3 separate regions of the Homo sapiens genome follow, and regions 1 and 2 are each linked to region 3. Evidence: fine-mapped expression QTL. A gene starts in region 3. Each other region holds a variant in brackets. All regions are shown on one strand. Distances are between the middles of the regions.

What was found.
Region 1: its variant is fine-mapped to the expression of CRK in whole blood (TOPMed, PIP above 0.99).
Region 2: its variant is fine-mapped to the expression of CRK in whole blood (INTERVAL, PIP 0.97).

What each region holds. Positions count from the first base shown.
Region 1 is chr17:1,422,917-1,429,510 of GRCh38, reverse strand. CRK (CRK proto-oncogene, adaptor protein) reads left to right here. Exons shown (of 3, transcript NM_016823.4): 3 at 5,861-6,594. The coding sequence ends at 5,998. It overlaps CRK-AS1 (CRK antisense RNA 1), which reads right to left and starts at 4,925. Exons shown (of 1, transcript NR_198965.1): 1 at 4,846-4,925. The variant C/A (reference allele first, on the strand shown) is at 4,424.
Region 2 is chr17:1,431,389-1,438,427 of GRCh38, reverse strand. It overlaps CRK (CRK proto-oncogene, adaptor protein), which reads left to right. Exons shown (of 3, transcript NM_016823.4): 2 at 1,273-1,808. Among named protein-coding and RNA genes, the nearest start is that of CRK-AS1, 10 kb to the right of the region's middle. RefSeq lists enhancers at 5,377-5,877, 5,878-6,378. The variant C/G (reference allele first, on the strand shown) is at 3,464.
Region 3 is chr17:1,453,563-1,458,562 of GRCh38, reverse strand. CRK (CRK proto-oncogene, adaptor protein) reads left to right here and starts at 2,331. Exons shown (of 3, transcript NM_016823.4): 1 at 2,331-2,686. The coding sequence starts at 2,446. RefSeq lists silencers at 2,023-2,522, 2,613-2,672, 2,783-2,912 and enhancers at 2,177-3,162, 4,297-4,798.

The DNA of each region.
Region 1 (6,594 bases), 30 kb after region 3:
CTTGAAGTCAGGAGTTGCATACCAGACTGTCCAATGTGGTGAAACCTGGTCTCCACTAAAAATACAAAAATTAACTGAGCATGGTGGCGGGCGCCTATAATCCCAGGTCCTTGGGAGCCTAAGGCACAAGACTCCAGGAGGCGGAGTTTGCAATGAGACAAGATTGTGCCACTGCACTCCAGCCTGGGTGAGAGATCAATACAGTGTCTCAAAAAGAAAAAAAAACCCTGGACTCAAGGGTTCCTCTCCCCTCAGTCTCCCAAGTAGCTGGGACTACAGGTGCAGGCCAGCGTACCCGGTGTAAAAAAAAAAGTTTTAGATTTTGGCATGGTTTTCCTCTGCAGGGTAGATCCAAGAGAATCTGGCTGGGCACGGTGGCTCACACCTGTAATCCCAGCACTTTGGGAGGCCAAGGTGGGCGGATCACCTGAGGTCAGGAGTTGGAGACCAGCCTGGCCAACATGGTGAAACCCCATCTCTACTAAAAATGCGAAAAAATTAGCCGGACGTGGTGGCGTGCGCCAGTAATCCCAGCTACTCAGGAGGCTGAGGCAGGAGAATCGCTTGAACCCAGGAGGCGGAGGTTGCAGTGAGCTGAGATTGCGCCACTGGACTCCAGCCTGGGTGACAAGAGTGAGGCTCCATCTAAAAAAAAAAGAGAGAGAATCTGTACATTAAAGATAGTTCTGAGCCGGGCGTGGTGGCTCACGCCTGTAATCCCAGCACTTTGGGAGGCTGAGGTGAGCAGATCACGAGGTCAGGAGTTCAAGACCAGCCTGGCCAATATGGTGAAACCCCATCTCTACTATAAATACAAAAATTAGCAGGGCGTGGTGGCACATGCCTGTAGTCCCAGCTACTCAGGAGGCTGAGGCAGGAGAATCACTTGAACCTGGGAGGCAGAGGTTGCAGTGAGCTGAGATCATGCCACTGTACTCTAGCCAGGGCAACAGAGTGAGACGCTGTCTCAAAAAAAAAAAAAAAAAAAAGATCTGATATGGTCCAAAGGTCTAATTTACACATAGTTCCTTTCCCCAATAACATCTTGCCTCATAGAAATCCCTACTCATTTATCCCTTAGAAGTCTGAAAGAAGGGCTGGCACGGTGGCTCACACCTGTAATCCCAGCACATTGGGAGGCCGAGGTAGGCAGATCATGAAGTCAGGAGATCGAGACCATCCTGCCCACCATGGTGAAACCCCATCTCTACTAAAAATACAAAAATCAGCTGGGCGTGGTGGCGGGCGCCTGTAGTCCCAGCTACTCTGGAGGCTGAGGCAGGAGAATCATTTGAATCCTGGAGGCGGAGGTTGCAGTGAGCCAGCATCGTACCACTGCACTCCAGCCTGGGTGACAAGAGCAAAAACTCCATTAAAAAAAAAAAAAAAAAAGTCTGAAAGAAAAGATCTGGAGGCACATTAGCAGGTTTTGCCCCACATTTTGAGAAATTGGTATGGTTCTGTGTTAACAGCAAGGGGTGGGGCTGGTCCACTTTTCAACCTACCCTTCACCTCTTAGAGCTTTGTGGGATGTGATTTGAGACTGCAGTATGAATGCTTAAGAATAAAGACAATATAGGCTGGGCGCGGTGGCTGATGCCTGTAATTCCAGCACTTTGGGAAGCCGAGGTGGGCGGGTCATGAGGTCAGGAGTTCGAGACAAGCCTGCCCAGCATGGTGAGACCCCGTCTCTACTAAAAATACGAAAAAAGTACTGGCTGGGCATGGTGGCTTGTGCTTGTCGTCCCAGCTACTTGAGAGCCTGAGGCAGGAGAATTGTTTGAACCTGGCAGGTGGAGGTTGCAGTGAGCCAAGATAGCGTCACTGCACTCCAGCCTGGGTGACAGAGTGAGACTCTCTCTCAAACAAACAAAAAGAATAAAGACAATATAACATTGAGGTATTTATTTATTTATTTGAGACTGAGTCTCGCTCTGTTACCCAGGCTGGAGTGCAGTGGCGTGATCTCGGCTCACTGCAAGCTCCGCCTCCTGGGTTCACACCATTCTCCTGCCTCAGCCTCCCGAGTAGGTGGGACTACAGGCGCCCGCCAGCACGCCTGGCTAATTTTTTGTATTTTTAGTAGAGACGGGGTTTCACCGTGTTAGCCAGGATGGTCTGGATCTCCTGACCTCATGATCTGCCGCCCTCAGCCTCCCAAAGTGCTGGGATTACAGGCGTGAGCCACCGCGCCCGGCCAAGATTCTTTTTTTTTTTTTTTTGGAGACAGAATCTTGGTCTCTCCACCAGGGTGGGGTGCAGTGGTGCACTTGGCTTGCTACAGCTCAAACTCCCAGGCTCAAGTGATCCTCCTGCCTCAGCCTCCTGAGTAACTGGAACTACAGGTGCATACGATGATACCTTACTAATTTTTTTTTTTTTTTCAAGAGACACAGTCTTGCTATTGTTGCCTAGCCTGGCTGGGGCATGTCAGAATCTTTTTTTTTTTTTTTTTTTTTTTTTTTTTTTTTTTTTTTTTTGGAGACAGTTTTGCTCTGTCGCCCAGGCTGGAGTGCACTGGTACTATCTTGGCTCACTGCAATCTCTGCCTCCCGGGCTCAAGTGATCCTCCCATGTCAGCCTCTTGAGTAGCTGGGACCACAGGCGCACACTACTATGCCTGGCTAATTTATTTATTTATTTTATTTTTTGAGACAGTGTAACTCTGTTGGCCAGGCTGGAGTGCAGTGGCACAGTCTCGGCTCACTGCAACCTCCTCTTCCCAGGTTCAAGCAGTTCACTGCCTCAGCCTCGCAAGTAGCTGGGATTACAGGCGCCTGCCACCACACCTGGCTAATTTTTGTATTTTAGTAGAGACGGGGTTTCACCAATTTGGCCAGGCTGGTCTTGAACTCCTGACGTCGTGATTCACTCACCTCGACCTCCCAAAGTGCTGAGATTATAGGCGTGCGCCACCACGCCCAGCCAATTTTTTTATTTTTTGTAGAAATGAGGTTTCACTATGGTGCCCAGGCTGGTCTTGAACTCCTGAGCTCAAGTGATCCTCCTACCTCGCCTCCCAAAGTGCTGGGATTAAAGACGTGAGCCCCACAGCACCCTGCCCAGATGTGAGAAACGTTGAATTCTAAAATTGCTGGCAGGCCAGGTGTGGTGAGAGTCCTGGTGACAGCAACCTGTGAGGATTGTTACCTGTGTGTAAGGATAGGCATGCCATCATCCCTTCCTCCCCTTCCTCCACACTTGTGCTCAGCTGGCATCGTCACGACACAGGCTGGGCCATCATCCCTTCCTCTCCTTCCTCCACACGTGTGCTCAGCCGGCATTGTCACGACACAGGCTGGGTTAGCTGCTTGGTTTTCTCTTTTTTTGCAGACAGGGTCTTGTTGCCCAGGCTAGGGGGCAGCCTTGACCTCCCAGGAGGCTCAGGTGACCTCCTACCTCAGCCTCCCAAGTAACTGGGACCACAGGCGCACACCAGCACGCTTGGCCACGCTTGGCCACACTTGGCTTTTTAAATTTTTTTGTAGAGACAAGATCTCACTCTTTTGCCAGGGCTGCTCTCAAAATCATGGGCTCAAGCCATCCCCCCACCTCAGTTTCCCAAAGTGCTGGGATTACAGGCATGAGCCACTGCACCAAGCCTGCTGCTATTTTTTTCTCAACCTCTGTGTCTTATGTGTCTCTCTATCCCCTTCTTTCTGTCCCTCCTTTTCTCAGCATCCTATGACCCATACAGTGACTTCAGGCCTCTGTAATTTTTAGAGAGTTCTTCAGGAAACAACAGAGGGGCCAATAGGCAAGCTGTTCCATCTGTAAGTGAGGTCAGGCTGGGCCTGGAAGAGGCCCTGCGGCTGGACTTACGTTGGCTTTGGCCAGTAGATGTGCCTGCGTACATTTTTAGGGAACCCAGTACAAGCCCAGATGCATAATTTGAAAGTTCCTGATACTGTATGAAATGCATAAATGGTGTGGAGGCTCATGCCTGTAATTAGCTGGGCATGGTGGCGTGCACCTGTAGTCTCAGCTACTCGGGAGGCTAAGGTTGGAGGATCCCATGAGCCCAAGAGTTACAGGCTGCAGTGAGCCATGATGGTGTCAGTGCTCTCCAGCCTGAGTGACAGAGTGAGACCCTGTCTCAAAAACAAAAGATAAAAAGATGGCCAGGCGTGGTGGCTCACACCTGTAATCATAGCACTTTGGGAGGCCGAGGCGGGCGGATCACGAGGTCAGGAGATCGAGACCATCTTGGCTAACATGGTGAAACCCCATCTCTACTAAACAAAATACAAAAAATTAGCTGGGCGTGGTGGCGGGCGGCTGTAGTCCCAGCTACTAGGGAGGCTGAGGCAGGAGAATGGCGTGAACCCGGGAGGCAGAGCTTGCAGTGAGCTGAGATAGCGCCACTGCACTCCAGCCTGGGCAACAGATCGAGACTCTGTCTTAAAAAAACAAACAAAAAAAA[C/A]CTTTATATTTCATTTTGCAACAAGAGACATTTTATAAATAAATGCCAAAACATAAGGTTTTTTTTTGTTTTTAGAGGCAGGATCTGGCTCTGTTGCCCAGGCTGGAGTGCAGTGATGTGATCTCGGCTCACTGCAACCTCTGCCTCCTGGGCTCAAGCAGTCCACCCACCTCAGCCTCCCGAGTAGCTGGTTCTATGAGCAGCCACCACCACACCCAGCTAATTTTTGTATTTTTTGTAGAGACGGTTTCACCATGTTGCTCAGGCTGGTCTCAAAAACTCCTGAGCTGAAGCAATCCATCCACCTGTGTCAGGCTCACCAAGTGCTGGGATTGCAGGCGTCAGCCACTGCGCCCGGCCATGGTTGGTTTTTTTGACCCCTCATTGGGTAATGATCAGGTAACAAGCGGCTTTGAGGGAGCAGCAAGGTCTGTCCGATGGTGGGATTTGGGGGCTGGGCAGGCAGTGGCTTGTGAAGTAGAGCTTACTGAATGAGGTGGGGGTTTTCTGGGAGCTAATTGGACCTGGAGTTTTGGCCTCTACCTGCCCATATGGGAAAAGGCTTGCCTGGGTCAGGAGGTGATAGGAACACTTGATTCTCTAGGACCAAGTGACCTATGCTTGCCATGATCGCTTTCTGCTGTGCAAGCAGTAACAGGCCAGGTCTTGTGCGAGTGGGCTGGGGGATTGTGCTGCTGCCATATGCTAAAGCGGGGAGAAGGCGGCCAGGCACAGTGGCTCACGCCTGTAATCCAAGCACTTTGGGAGGCCAAGGCAGGTGGATCACAAGGTCAGGAGTTCGAGACCAGCCTGGCCAAGATGGTGAAACTCCATCTCTACTAAAAATACAAAAATTAGCTGGGCACGGTGGCAGGCGCCTGTAGTCCCAGCTACTCGGGAGGCTGTGGCAGGAAAATTGCTCGAACCTGGGAGGCAGAGCTTGCAGTGAGCTGAGATCACGCCACTGTCATCCAGCCTGGGTGACAGAGACTCCGTCTCAAAAAAAAAAAAAAAAAAAAACGGAGAAAGCTGCTTCTCCTCGGACAGGGCCTGCGGAGCAGGCAGAAAGCTGAGGGTAGTGAGTACAAAGAAAGGGAATAGTAGCTAACTCACTGAAGTTGGGATTGCTCATGCAGAGACAGCTGAGATTTCCAATAATTATCACTTTCCTTTTTTAATCAAAAAGTATCATTATCTGGAATCCCTTTTACTTTCTGTATTCTCTGTTTTTCCACACTGCTAAAAACACTTTTCCTTCTGCCTGCATTAACCACAAGTAATCAGTCTGGTGGCTGGGGCTGGGGAGGCAGCAAATGGCCATTTCTGTAATATCCCTAGAGCAGTCACATGGGCAGGGTGTGCCTAACCAGAGAATGGAGTTGTTCAGCTTGCATTCCTACCTGGAAATAAAGTGCTCTCCTTATTCTCCTCCTGCAGGTCGGTGAGCTGGTAAAGGTTACGAAGATTAATGTGAGTGGTCAGTGGGAAGGGGAGTGTAATGGCAAACGAGGTCACTTCCCATTCACACATGTCCGTCTGCTGGATCAACAGAATCCCGATGAGGACTTCAGCTGAGTATAGTTCAACAGTTTTGCTGACAGATGGGAACAATCTTTTTTTTTTTTTTCCAACTGCCATCTATACAATTTTCTTACAGATGTCAAAAGCAGTCTAGTTTATATAAGCATTCTGTTACCTGTGATATTTTTTAGACTGAACTGCTCCATTCCTAGTCTTAATTACCATATTCAGGGTACGAACTGGAGGGCTTGTGTGTTAGCTTCTGAATTGGCAATTGGAGGCGGTAGTGGTCGTGCCTGTGTGTATCAGAAGGGATAGGTATCTTGCCTCCTTTCTCTCAGGCAGTGCAAATCACCCTGTGGAAAACCGATGGACAGGAAGGAGTGTTACACACTGCTTACCCTGATTTATTCAGTGGTTTTGTTTTCATTCTGGAACCATACTATCAAATGGCGACAGACTGTTCCGTTCCACCCCCGTGAAGTAATCATGCACCGTGTGAATAGTATCAAGCAGGATTGCTTTCATTGTATGGAGCATGACCAGCGTGTGACTCATTCTGACATTTCAGATCCTAAGAATTCTAAGAACACTACTAGAAGCATTTGTTCCCTCCTAGTCAATGCTTCATACTTTTTCTTGGGATTCTT
Region 2 (7,039 bases), 21 kb after region 3:
CCAGGCACTGTGGCTCATCCCTGTAATCCCAACACTTTGGAAGGTTGAGGCCGAAGGATTGCTTGAGCCCAGGTGTTTGAGACTAGCCTGGGCAACATAGTGAAACCCCATCTCTACAAAATATTTAAAAATTACCCAGATATGGTTGAGCGTGCCTGTAGTCCCAGCTGCTCAGGAGGCTGAAGTGGGAGGATTACTTGAGCCTGGGAGGTCAAGGCTGCAGTAAGCTGTGATTGTGCCACTGCACTCCAGCTTGAGCGACACAGCGAGACTCTGTCCCAAAAACAACGAAAACCACAACAAGAGATAGTTTTTCTTCTTCGGAATTATACATTCTAGATGTGAAGAGAAAAAATGTGTGAGCTCAGTGCAGACACAAGCTCTCTCCACCTTCTGAACAGCAGCAGGGACCCATGAAAAACAAGAGCTTGCTACATTTCCTGAGGTTGAAAAGTAGATGCAGGCCAGGCGCAGTAGCTCACACCTGTAATCCCAGCACTTTGGGAGGCTGAGGTGGGTGGATCACCTGAGATCAGGAGTTTGAGACCAGCCTGGCCAACATGGTGAAACCCCGTCTCTACTAAAAATACAAAAAAAAAAAAAAAAATTAGCTTGTCATGGTGGTGGGAGCCTGTAATCCTAGCTACTCAGGAGGCTGAGACGGGAGAATCGCTTGAACCCGGGAGGCAGAGGTTGCAGTGAGCAGAGATCACGCCACTACACTCCAGCCTGGGCGACACAGTGAGATTTGGTCTCAAAAAAAAAAAAACATGCAACAGAACCTTGAGGCTTACACTGCTCTGTAAATGGGGTAGCGACAGAACATATTTGGAGAATGCAGTGAAAGCCCCCGTCGTTGATCAAGTATGAGAGCACGTCCTGATCAGCCTAGTCTCCTGGCCTCCTCATCCTTCCCTGGGGCTGTAGTGATGGGCATCTTTCTTCCCAGGGGATGTTTCAGCTTCCAAATGTGATGTTGGTGTGCTGTGAAGAGAAGGGGTTATTTTTTCTAGAGTTTTTTTTGCTGATTAAATCTTGACTAAATGTGTATGAGGCATGCATGAAAGCTCCATTTCGGCCAGGCACAGTGGTGGGCTCCTGTAGTCCCAGCTACTCAGGAGTTTGTGGTGAGAGGATCACTTGAGCCCCGGAGGTCAAGACCAGCCTGGGTAACATAGTGAGATCCCAACTCTAAAAAAAATAAAAATAAAATCTGCATTTCATTTCCAGTGTAGTACATCATTAAATAACAGCCTGCTCTGTTTTTTCCAGGGGTGAGCCCCTCCAGACTCCGAATAGGAGATCAAGAGTTTGATTCATTGCCTGCTTTACTGGAATTCTACAAAATACACTATTTGGACACTACAACGTTGATAGAACCAGTTTCCAGATCCAGGCAGGGTAGTGGAGTGATTCTCAGGCAGGAGGAGGCGGAGTATGTGCGAGCCCTCTTTGACTTTAATGGGAATGATGAGGAAGATCTTCCCTTTAAGAAAGGAGACATCTTGAGAATCCGGGACAAGCCTGAAGAGCAGTGGTGGAATGCGGAGGACAGCGAAGGCAAGAGAGGGATGATTCCAGTCCCTTACGTCGAGAAGTATAGACCTGCCTCCGCCTCAGTATCGGCTCTGATTGGAGGTAACCAGGAGGGTTCCCACCCACAGCCACTGGGTGGGCCGGAGCCTGGGCCCTATGCCCAACCCAGCGTCAACACTCCGCTCCCTAACCTCCAGAATGGGCCCATATATGCCAGGGTTATCCAGAAGCGAGTCCCCAATGCCTACGACAAGACAGCCTTGGCTTTGGAGGTACATAACGTGCACAATGTAGAAAGAAGAGATCTGCTGCAGGGTCTCCTCTCGGTCCTCTTAGAGCTTTGTAGCAATGCTGACTACAGCATTGGGATGTTGTAGATGGCAAGCCGCTAAGCACTGATGTTGGCATTGAATGTTGGGTTTTCTCTTCTTCATAGAAAACCTGTTTGGGAATGAGTAAGCTTAAAACTGTATAACTGAATGTTCTTAATTGATCTACTAAACACACTTGGACTACTTTAATAACACCACCTGAATTCACAGGAATTAACCTCAAATGTTTTTCCTCATCTACATCCTCATCTGTTTCTTGCTTTCTGTTTGTCGTTGTCTAAAAGAAGGTGGGTTCAGATGGATTTGAGTGTAATAAGTGGTCTCTATCAAAGCACTTAAATGGAATTTTCCCGCAAAAACTTGTTTTTGCTTCAGGGGACTTGAAGTTCCTTACCACTAATGTTCATTGAGTAGAATCCGGGAGGAAATAGGCCTAGTAGAGGTTTGAAGAGATGCACACCCAGAAGTCCTCATTCCGAGGAGTGGCAGGTGCACGGGTCTTTCTAAATCATTCAAAAAGCCAGTTCTTCCTCAGGAATTAATTTTTGCCTTTACTGATGAAATATCTTTGGCAGCCCACTTCCTTCTGGCCAGCCATTACATGGTGTTAATTCCTTTATTCCTCTCTTCCACGCTCACACCTTGCTCTCCTACCTCCTTCCTTTCTTCTTCCTTCCTCCCTCTCTCCCTTCCTTTCTTTTCAGAAGAATTGATGGTTCAGTGTAAAAGCTAGTACAGACTGGGCACAGTGGCTCACACTTGTAATCCTAGTGCTCTGGGAGGCTAAGGCAGGAAGACCACTTGAGACCAGGTGTTCAAGACCAGTCTGGGAAACATAGACCTCAGCTTTTTTTAACAAAAAGTGAAAAAAAAAAATCACCAGGCGTGGTGGCATGCACCTGCAGTCCTGGCTTGAATGAGAAATGGAATGTATGTTGTCAGAGTTATCACTGCCTCTTGTTCCCATTCCCTGTTTGGAGGAAAATAGATTTCTACCCTCAGGTCTTCCTGTGAGTTCAGATGACGGTAACATCTGGCATGGTGCTGTGTGTATGATGGATCTTACTCCTTTTTATTTTCTTTTTTTTTTTTCCTCTCTGCTTTTTTTTATTTTTATCTGGCCTTACTGAGTCACTAGATGTAACTCTTGACATTTATTACAGACTTTATTAGCACTGGGTTGAAGTAAGTATGAAAACATGGAACAAAGGCTGGGCGTGTGGCTCATACCTGTAATCCCAGCACCTTGGGAGGCCGAGGTGGGCAGATCACTTGAGCTCAGGAGTTGGAGACCGGCCTAGGCAACATGGCAAAACACCATCTCTACAAAAAATTAGCTGGGCATGGTGGCACGTGCCTGTGGTCCCAGCTACTTGGGAGGCTGAGGAGGGAGGATCACCTGAGCCTGAAAGGTCATGGCTGAAGTGAGCTGAGATCATGACACTGCACTCCAGCCTGGGCGACAGGGTGAGACTCTGTCTCAAAAAAAGAAAAAGAAAAAAAGCCATGGAACAAGCCAGCTGACCCAGGAGAAACCAGTTATCATGTGAATTTTGCTTCTATTTGCATTTCCTTTCTCAGAGATTTAATCATGC[C/G]TGCCTTAATTAGAGGCTTTACTGCTCAAAAAAATGGTTGAGCTTCTCTACCTGCTGTGAAACACAAATCTCATTAAATAAAGATTTGAGTAGAAAACTAGTTTTATGATTTTAGTAAGTTTTCCTTTTTGATTTGGGTATTGGGTTTTTTTGGATTTTTTTTTTTTTTTTTGGTTCTTTTTGAGACGAAATCTCACTCCATCGCCCAGGCTGGGGTGCAATGGCACGATCTCGGCTCACTGCAACCTCCGCCTCCCAGGTTCAAGTGATTCCCCTGCCTCAGTCTCCTGAGTAGTTGGGATTACAGGCATACCCCATTGTGCCTGGCTAATTTTTGTATTTTTAGTAGAGACAGGGTTTCACCTTGTTGGCCAGGCTGGTCTCAAACTCCTGACCTCAGGTGATCCACCCGCCTCAGCCTCCCAAAGTGCTGGGATTACAGGTGTGAGCTGTCGTGCCTGGCCAATTTCTAGAAATGTCTTTATGTTGAGCTAAAACATATGTACTATGTGTGGTCACCGCTCATCAAGGGTATGGGGAGCTTAGCTTCAGGCATTATCAGTTGAGCTAGAGATCTTTGTGACTCACACCAGAACCAGGGTAAGGCCTATCTCCCAGGATTCTGTGGGATGTTTTTTCTGTTCATGTGGACTGTTAAATCTCAAACACTGGCAGCTTTCCACCAATACTACCCATGCCAGTTTCAGTCCATCTCTGATGCAGGTGAATTGTTAAGGCTGAATTGTCCTCATTTGTTTCCATCAATTTGAAAGACTGTCGATGGGCCCTAGATACACTACCTGTTACTTAGATCAGGGGTCTGCAAACCTTTTCTGTAAAGGTTTTTGAGGGCCTTAAATTCTGTGTCCCAACTCTGCCATTGTAGCAAGAAGGAAATCATAGATAAAACAACAGATGAGCTTGCTGTGTTCCAATAAAGCTGCAAAAACAACAGGCTGATGTTTGGCCAGGTGCTGTGACTTACGCCTGTAATCCCAGCACTTTCGGAGGCTGAGGTGGGAGGATCGCTTGAGTCCAGGTGTTTGAAACCAGCCTGGGCAACATGGTGAGATCCGGTCTCTACAAAAAATGTTTTTAAAAATTAGCCAGGTGATCTAAAAAAAAAAAAAAAAAAAAAACCATACATGCTGGGTGCGGTGGCTCACGCCTGTAATCTCAGCACTTTGGAAGGCTGAGGCAGGCAGATCACCTGAGATCAGGAGTTTGAGACCAGCCTGACCGATATGATGAAACCCTGTCTGTACTAAAAATACAAAAATTAGCCAGGCGTGGTGGTGGGCGCCTGTAATTCCAGCTACTCGGGAGGCTAAGACAGGAGAATCACTTGAACCCGGGAGGCAGAGATTTCAGTGAGCTGAGATCGTGCCATAGCACTTCAGCCTGGGCAACAAGAGTGAAACTCCATCTCAAAAAAAAAAAAAAAAAAAAAAAAAAGCCAGGCGTGGTGGTGTGCACCTGTGGTCTCAGCTGCTTGGGAGGCTGAGGTAGGAAAACTGCTTGAGCCTAGGAGGTTGGAAGAGAAGGCTCCTGTGCTGCCTCTCTGTACTTGCTCTTCCCTGGTTTTGTGTGTATGAATTTGTGTGTGCTTCCTGCCCTGAGCTCACTGAAAGCAAGTCTGGATCAAGGCATGTTAGCAGTCAGTGATGTGCTGCTGGTTGGTAGTAGGGACCTAGAAAAGCAGTCACCTGGGTTTGCGCCAGCAAAGAAAACCAGTTCTGTGATGTCCCCTGTGTAGTGAATTCCAAACATTGATACCATTTGGGTTCTGATTTTGTTCTCATTATCTCTGGAACGCATTGATCAGCTGGGTAATCTTTTGTTCCTGTACCAATTCTAGATCTGATTGCACCAGGATCGATTAGCCTTGAAAACGACACAGAGCTAGGGAATAGCCAGTGTTTGTTACGTTCCTTGGGAGCAAAGAAACTGTAGTAACCACATTCAGTCTTCTTTATGAATGACTCCATGATACAGCCGGGACTTGCTTCCTAAAAAAGTGAAGATGAAAGGATGCTTGTTATATTTTAGTCAACTTTTCTAGGTGTTTTGTGGATTGTGGTTCTTTAGGATATAGTCTTAAGTCCACCATTCTACTTGATAGCAAACTCTGTTTAAATACCTCAATCTTATATTGTCTTTGTTCTTCTTTTCTTTTTTTTTTTTTTTTGAGACGGAGTCTCGCTTTGTTGCCCAGGCTGGAGTGCAGTGGCGTGATCTCGGCGCACTGCAAGCTCCGCCTCCTGGGCTCATGCCATTCTCCTGCCTCAGCCCCCCAAGTAGCTGGGACTACAGGCGCCCGCCACCACGCCTGGCTAATTTTTTATATTTTTAGTAGAGATGAGGTTTCACCGTGTTAGCCAGGATGGTCTCGACCTCCTGACCTCGTGATCCACCTGCCTTCGCCTCCCAAAGTGCTGGGATTACAGGCGTGAGCCACCGCGCCTGGCCTTTTTTTTTTTTTTTTTTTAAGACAAGGTCTCACTCTGTCACCCAGGCTGGAGTACAGTGGCGTGATCTCACTCTGCCTCCTGGGTTCAAGTGATTCTCGTGCCTCAACCTCCCGGGTAGCTGGGATTACAGGCATCCACCACCACGCCTGGCTAATTTTTTTATTTTTAGTAGAGATGGGATTTCGCCACATTGGCCAGGCTAGTCTCAAACTCCTGGCCTCAAGCGATCCGCCTGCCTCAGCCTCCCAAAGTGCTGGGATTATAGGCATGAGCCACCCCGCCTGGCCTATGTTGTCTTTATTCTTAAACATTCAGAGTGCAGTCTCAAATCCCATCCCACAGAGCTGTAAGAAGCTCCTAAGAATGTGTTACAGGATGAGGAGGCTGAGGACCAGCCTGGACAGTAAAACAGTTCCTCTGTGGTGAGACTCATCAGTCTCTTTGCTGTAGTGAGGTCTCCCTCTTGGAAAGAAAGGTTAACTACCTTGTAGTACTTCAAGTCCTGTATGAAGTCTTTGTTGTTCATTGGTAATTCATATTAGGATTTTTCTTTCCTATTTATAACTTGAATTTTGAAATCAGTAGTGTTAGAACTACTGTTATTACTACATTCACTGATTAGTACATTCCTTTGTATTGTCAGATTGTAACAGTTCTGGGGCAAGCACTCGGTTTCACCTTTGTATTTGAAGTAGTACACCCTAGTCTGGTCAACATGGTGAAACCCATCATTACAAGAATTAGCCAAGTGTGGTGCACATGCCTGTAGTCCCAGATACTCTAGTGACTGAGATGGGAGGATGGCTTCAGCCTGGGAGGTCAAGGCTGGAGTGAGCTATGATTGCGCTACTGCAGTCCAGGCTAGGCGACAGAGTGAGACTCTGCCTCAAAAAAAACTAGTACACCAAGTTTCTTTTTTTTTTCTTTTGTATTTTTAGTAGAGATGGGGTTTCACTGTGTTAGCCAGGATGGTCTCGATCTCCTGACCTCGTGACCCACTCCCCTCTGCCTCCCAAAGTGCTGAGATTACAGGCGTGAGCCACCGCCCCGGTATGATACCCCTCACCTTCCCTGATCTGATCTTTGGGAATTATGCTTTAGTGAA
Region 3 (5,000 bases):
TGTTGGCCAGGCTGGTCTCGAACTCCTGACCTCCTGGCCTCCCAAAGTGCTGGGATTACAAGCATGAGCCACTATGCCTGGCCAGAAAAAATTTTTAATTAAAAAAAAATGAGCCTGGCCAATATGGTGAAACCCCGTCTCTACTGAAAATACAAACATTAGCCGGGCGTGGTGGCGGGTGCCTGTAGTCCCAGCTACTCGGGAGGCTGAGGCAGGGATAATCGCTTGAATCCGGGAGGCGGAGATTGCAGTGAGCCGAGATCACGCCACTGCACTCCAGCCTGGGCAACAGAGCAGGAATCCATCTAAAAAAAAAAAAAAGAGAGAGAGAGACTGTGGCCCAATTTTATGCTCTGAGCTAAACTGGGAGTTTGAACACCTGAAGACTGTTAAAAGTTTTACACAAGGTAGCAACACATTCAGATTTGTATACATATATATATATTTTTGAGACAGGATCTCCCTCTGTCACCCAGGCTGGAGTGCAGTGGCATGATTTCGGCTCACTGCAACCTCCGCCTCCTGGGTTCAAGCGATTCTCCTGCCTCATCCTCCTGAGTAGCTGGGATTACAGGCGCCCGCTAACACACCTGGCTAATTTTTGTATTTTTAGTAGAGACCGGGCTTCACCATATTGGTCAGCCCGGTCTCGAACTTCTGACCTCAGGTGATCTGCCAGCCACAGCCTCCCAAAGTGTTGGGATTACAGGCATGAGCCACGGCGCCCGGCCAGATCTGTATTTTAGAAAACTCAGTGGGAGTTGTTTGCAGTGCGATTAGGGGCAGCCAGACGAAAGAGCACCAGCGAGCACGACACTCGTAGGAACACAGTCCAGAGGCAATCATGAGGGCAGTGAGAGTAGGAGATGCCCCTGGCTACAATTTAGTGTTTAGAATTATCTGGGCAGGTGACCCCAAAGCCTCAAAAGAGAAGAGAACTCTGTACTTCACGTGGCTTGGTACACTCTGCTCCCTTTGCTTTGAATGTCCTTCCCCGCCGAGTGCGGTGGCTCACGCCTGTAATCCCAGCACTTTGGGAGGCCGAGGTGGGCGGATCTCAAGGTCAGGAGATCGAGACCAGCCTGGCTAACACGGTGAAACCCCATCTCTACTAAAAATACAAAAAGTTAGCCGGGCGTGGTGGCGGGTGCCTGCAGTCCCAGCAACTCGGGAGGCTGAGGCAGGAGAATGGCGTGAACCCGGGAGGCGGAGCTTGCAGTGAGCCGAGATCACGCCCAGGCACTCCAGCCTGGGCGACAGAGCGAGACTCCATCTCAAAAAAAAAAAAAAAAAAAAAAGAAAGAATGTCCTTCCCCATTTGTCATTCAGCAGTCAACACATGCTGCCTCCTCTGGGAAGCCCTCCTGGATTACTCCATAGACTGGCTGTGGGGGCTCTGCTCTGTGTTCATGTCCGTTTCCCATGATAGCGTTTGTCAGCATTTGTCATCCTTTTGTCATCCAGTTTCCTGGTTCCTCTCACTGGTCTGTGAGTTCGAGGAGTGCAGGGCCCAGCCATGATAACCTTTGCACCCGCAGTGCAAGTGGAGTGTCAACAACAATGTCCTAGGTGAATCAATGAAAATGAGAACGTCAGCTGGTCTGTGGAGAAGCTAGAGGAACGAGCAGAAACGGACCGACGTGGCCGGGCGCGATGTTTCTCGCCTGTAATCCCAGCACTTTGGGAGGCCGAGGCGGGCGGATCACCTGAGGTCAGGAGATTGAGACCATCCTGGCCGACATGGTGAAACCCCCGTCTCTACTAAAAATACAAAAAACAGCCGGGCGCGGTGGCTCACGCCTGTAGTCTCAGCTACTCGGGAGGCTGACGCAGGAGAATCGCTTGAACCCGGGAGCAGTGAGCCGAGATCGCGCCATTGCACTCCAGCGTGGGCGACAGAACAAGACTCCGTCTCAAAAAGAAAAAGAAAAAAGAAACAGACTGATATCGCAGGAAGCCTGGCCGAGAACTCAGGCCCCAGGGCCACACGCATCTTTTCTCCTCCAATTCTGTCTGGGAGTCGCTGCCTAGAAGTCCCAGGTCGTCCAGGAACCGGGGCCCAGACGAGAAGCACCGCTCTGTCCGCAGCGCAGGCGCGCGTCTCTGCGGGAGGCTGCGAGGCCCCGCCCCTCGGGCCCTAGACCCCGCCTCCCATCCCCCGCAGCCCGGGCCCGGGAAGGGCGGCACCGCCCATGAATCCGCATGCGCAGTGCGCGCGCGAGGGCGCCTTGCCCTTCTCCCAATGGCGGGCCGCGGGCCCCTTCCCGGCAGCCTCCCTCGGGCAGGGAGCGCGTCATTTCCGGAGGGGGAGGCCCGCGGCTGCCGCCGCCATTTCGGGCGCTGCTGTGAAGCTGAAACCGGAGCCGGTCCGCTGGGCGGCGGGCGCCGGGGGCCGGAGGGGCGCGCGCGGCGGCGGCACCCCAGCGTTTAGGCGCGGAGGCAGCCATGGCGGGCAACTTCGACTCGGAGGAGCGGAGTAGCTGGTACTGGGGGAGGTTGAGTCGGCAGGAGGCGGTGGCGCTGCTGCAGGGCCAGCGGCACGGGGTGTTCCTGGTGCGGGACTCGAGCACCAGCCCCGGGGACTATGTGCTCAGCGTCTCAGAGAACTCGCGCGTCTCCCACTACATCATCAACAGCAGCGGCCCGCGCCCGCCGGTGCCACCGTCGCCCGCCCAGCCTCCGCCCGGTGAGGGACTGACGGGACGGCGGGCCCTGGGCGGGGTGAGGGCCGCGGAACTCCCAGCCTGGCTGGCTGGTCCTCGAGAGCGGACCCTCGGGGGTCGTGGGCAGAGGGCTGGGTGACCGTGGCAGGGGCCCGCCGGCTGCTCGGGCTCGCTCTCACCCGGGGAGCAGGAGTGTGGGGGAGGAGGAGCCGCGGACCGAGGCCCCGGGGTGTGCCTGGGGAGGGCAGCCGCGGGGAAGGGGAACTGCTTCGGCCCCAGGGTGGGGCTGGCTCCCGGGCCAGGCGCAAGGGTAGGGCAGGGCAAGGCAACGTGGGGACAAAGAGCTGAGGGAGATGTTGGCACTGCGGGGGCATCACTTGGCAGCGGCGCCCAGAATGAATCCGATAATCCTACAAGTGGCTTTTAGGCTGGAAACGTTTCCTGCCGTGTTGGAGAGCCGGGTTTGGCCGTGCTCCCCTGGTGGCCTTTGGTAGGAAGTCACCACATACTGGCCGGGAGGGATGGAGACACCCTCAGGAAACCGGTCAATTTTTTCCTTTCTTGGGCATTTTTCCAAAATCTTTGTACCGTTCTCTTCCCCCGTGGAGGACGAAGGTGGTGAACTAAGTGCTAGAAGAAATAGTGGTAGCAGAAAGCCTTCAGTGACCAGCCCAACCCAGTTTAAGGCGATGCCTGGCTATGTGCAAGAGATCTAAGCGTCCAGAAGACTGTCCGCCGTTAGAGAGTTCTGGTTTTCAAAGTGTTTAGTGGAGGAAAGACATTTTATTCCACAAAATAAACCAGAAGTGAGGCAATGGAAACAGACCCTTCCCTGTAAGTGACTGGAACTTCATTTTCCTTGGACTTAAACATTGTCGGTGTGTACTTCAGGGCGTCACCTTGCTCAGTAAGATGGGGCTGCGGGCTGAGTCTTCCTGGATATTGGGAACAGACTCTACGCCAAGAACATAAATTACCTGCGCTGGGTTTTCCTTGCCAGGGAGGGATCCCTGAGATTGACTGTCTTACCGATGCCGTTGGAGTTGATTTGGGACTGTTTTAAGGGAATAGATAGATGCCCTTAGTACTGGAGATTTGTGAGGTACAAAGTAATTCTGGGGTTCTCATTGTATGTGTACCTGTGTAACAGCATCAGGAGTCCTCGTGCCTTCACGCTGTTGCCAAGTCGAAGCAGTTTCTTCTTGGCCAGCTGAGAATGGGTTCAGACTAGTCTCATATGAATCAGGAAGCTCTTGAGCCGTCCTTTGTAGACTTGCCCTTGTAGAATAGTTCTAATTTAGATTTACTCGCTCCGGCCAGAAATAGAGAATTGGATAGGCAGTCTCTTTGTTAACACACACCAATTTTTATTTTACTCTTTTCTAAGACGGAGTCTTGCTCTGTCACCCACGCTGGAGCACAGTGGCGCAATCTCGGCTCACGGCGATTCTCCTGTCTCAGTCTCCCAAGTAGCTGGGATTACAGGCACCCGCCACCATAACCAGCTAATGTTGTATTTTTCGTAGAGACGAAGTTTCACCAGGTTGGCCAGGCTGGTCTCGAACTCCTGACCTCAGGTGATCCACCAGCCTCGGCCTCCCAAAGTGCTGGGATTACAGGCAAGAGCCACCGCGCCTGGCCAACACATACTAATTTTTTTAAAATTTTTCTTATTTATTTCTTACTTATTTATTTATTTTGAGACGGAGTCTCTCTGTCGCCCAGGCTGGAGTGCAGTGGCGCGATCTTGGCTCACTGCAACCTTTGCCTTTTGGGTTCAAGTGATTCTGCCTCAGCCTCCTGAGTAGCTGGGATTGCTGGTGTGCATCACCACCACGCCCAGCTAATTTTTTGTATTTTTAGTAGAGATGGGGTTTTACCAGGTTGGCCAGATTGGTCTTGAACTCCTGATCTCAGGTGATCCACTCGCCTTTGCCTCCCAAAATGCTGGGATTACAGGCGTGGGCCACCGCACCCAGCTTTGTTTGTTTGAGGCGGAGTTTCGCTTTTGTTGCCCAGGCTGGAGTGCGATGGTGCAATCTCAGCTCACTGCAATCTCTACCTCCCCGGGTTCAAAGGATTCTCCTGTCTCAGCCTCCCTAGTAGCTGGGATTACAGGCACACTCCACTACGCCTGGCTAGTTTTTGTATTTTTAGTAGGGTTGGGGTTTCGCCAAGTTGACCAGGCTGGTCTCGAACTCCTGACCTCAGGTGATCTGCCCACCTCAGACTCCCAAAGTGTTGGGATTACAGGCGTGAGCCACCACACCCAGTCTAACACAACCATTTTTTAAAAATGAGTATGGGGTCTATAAGCTCACAAATTATCCTAGATCT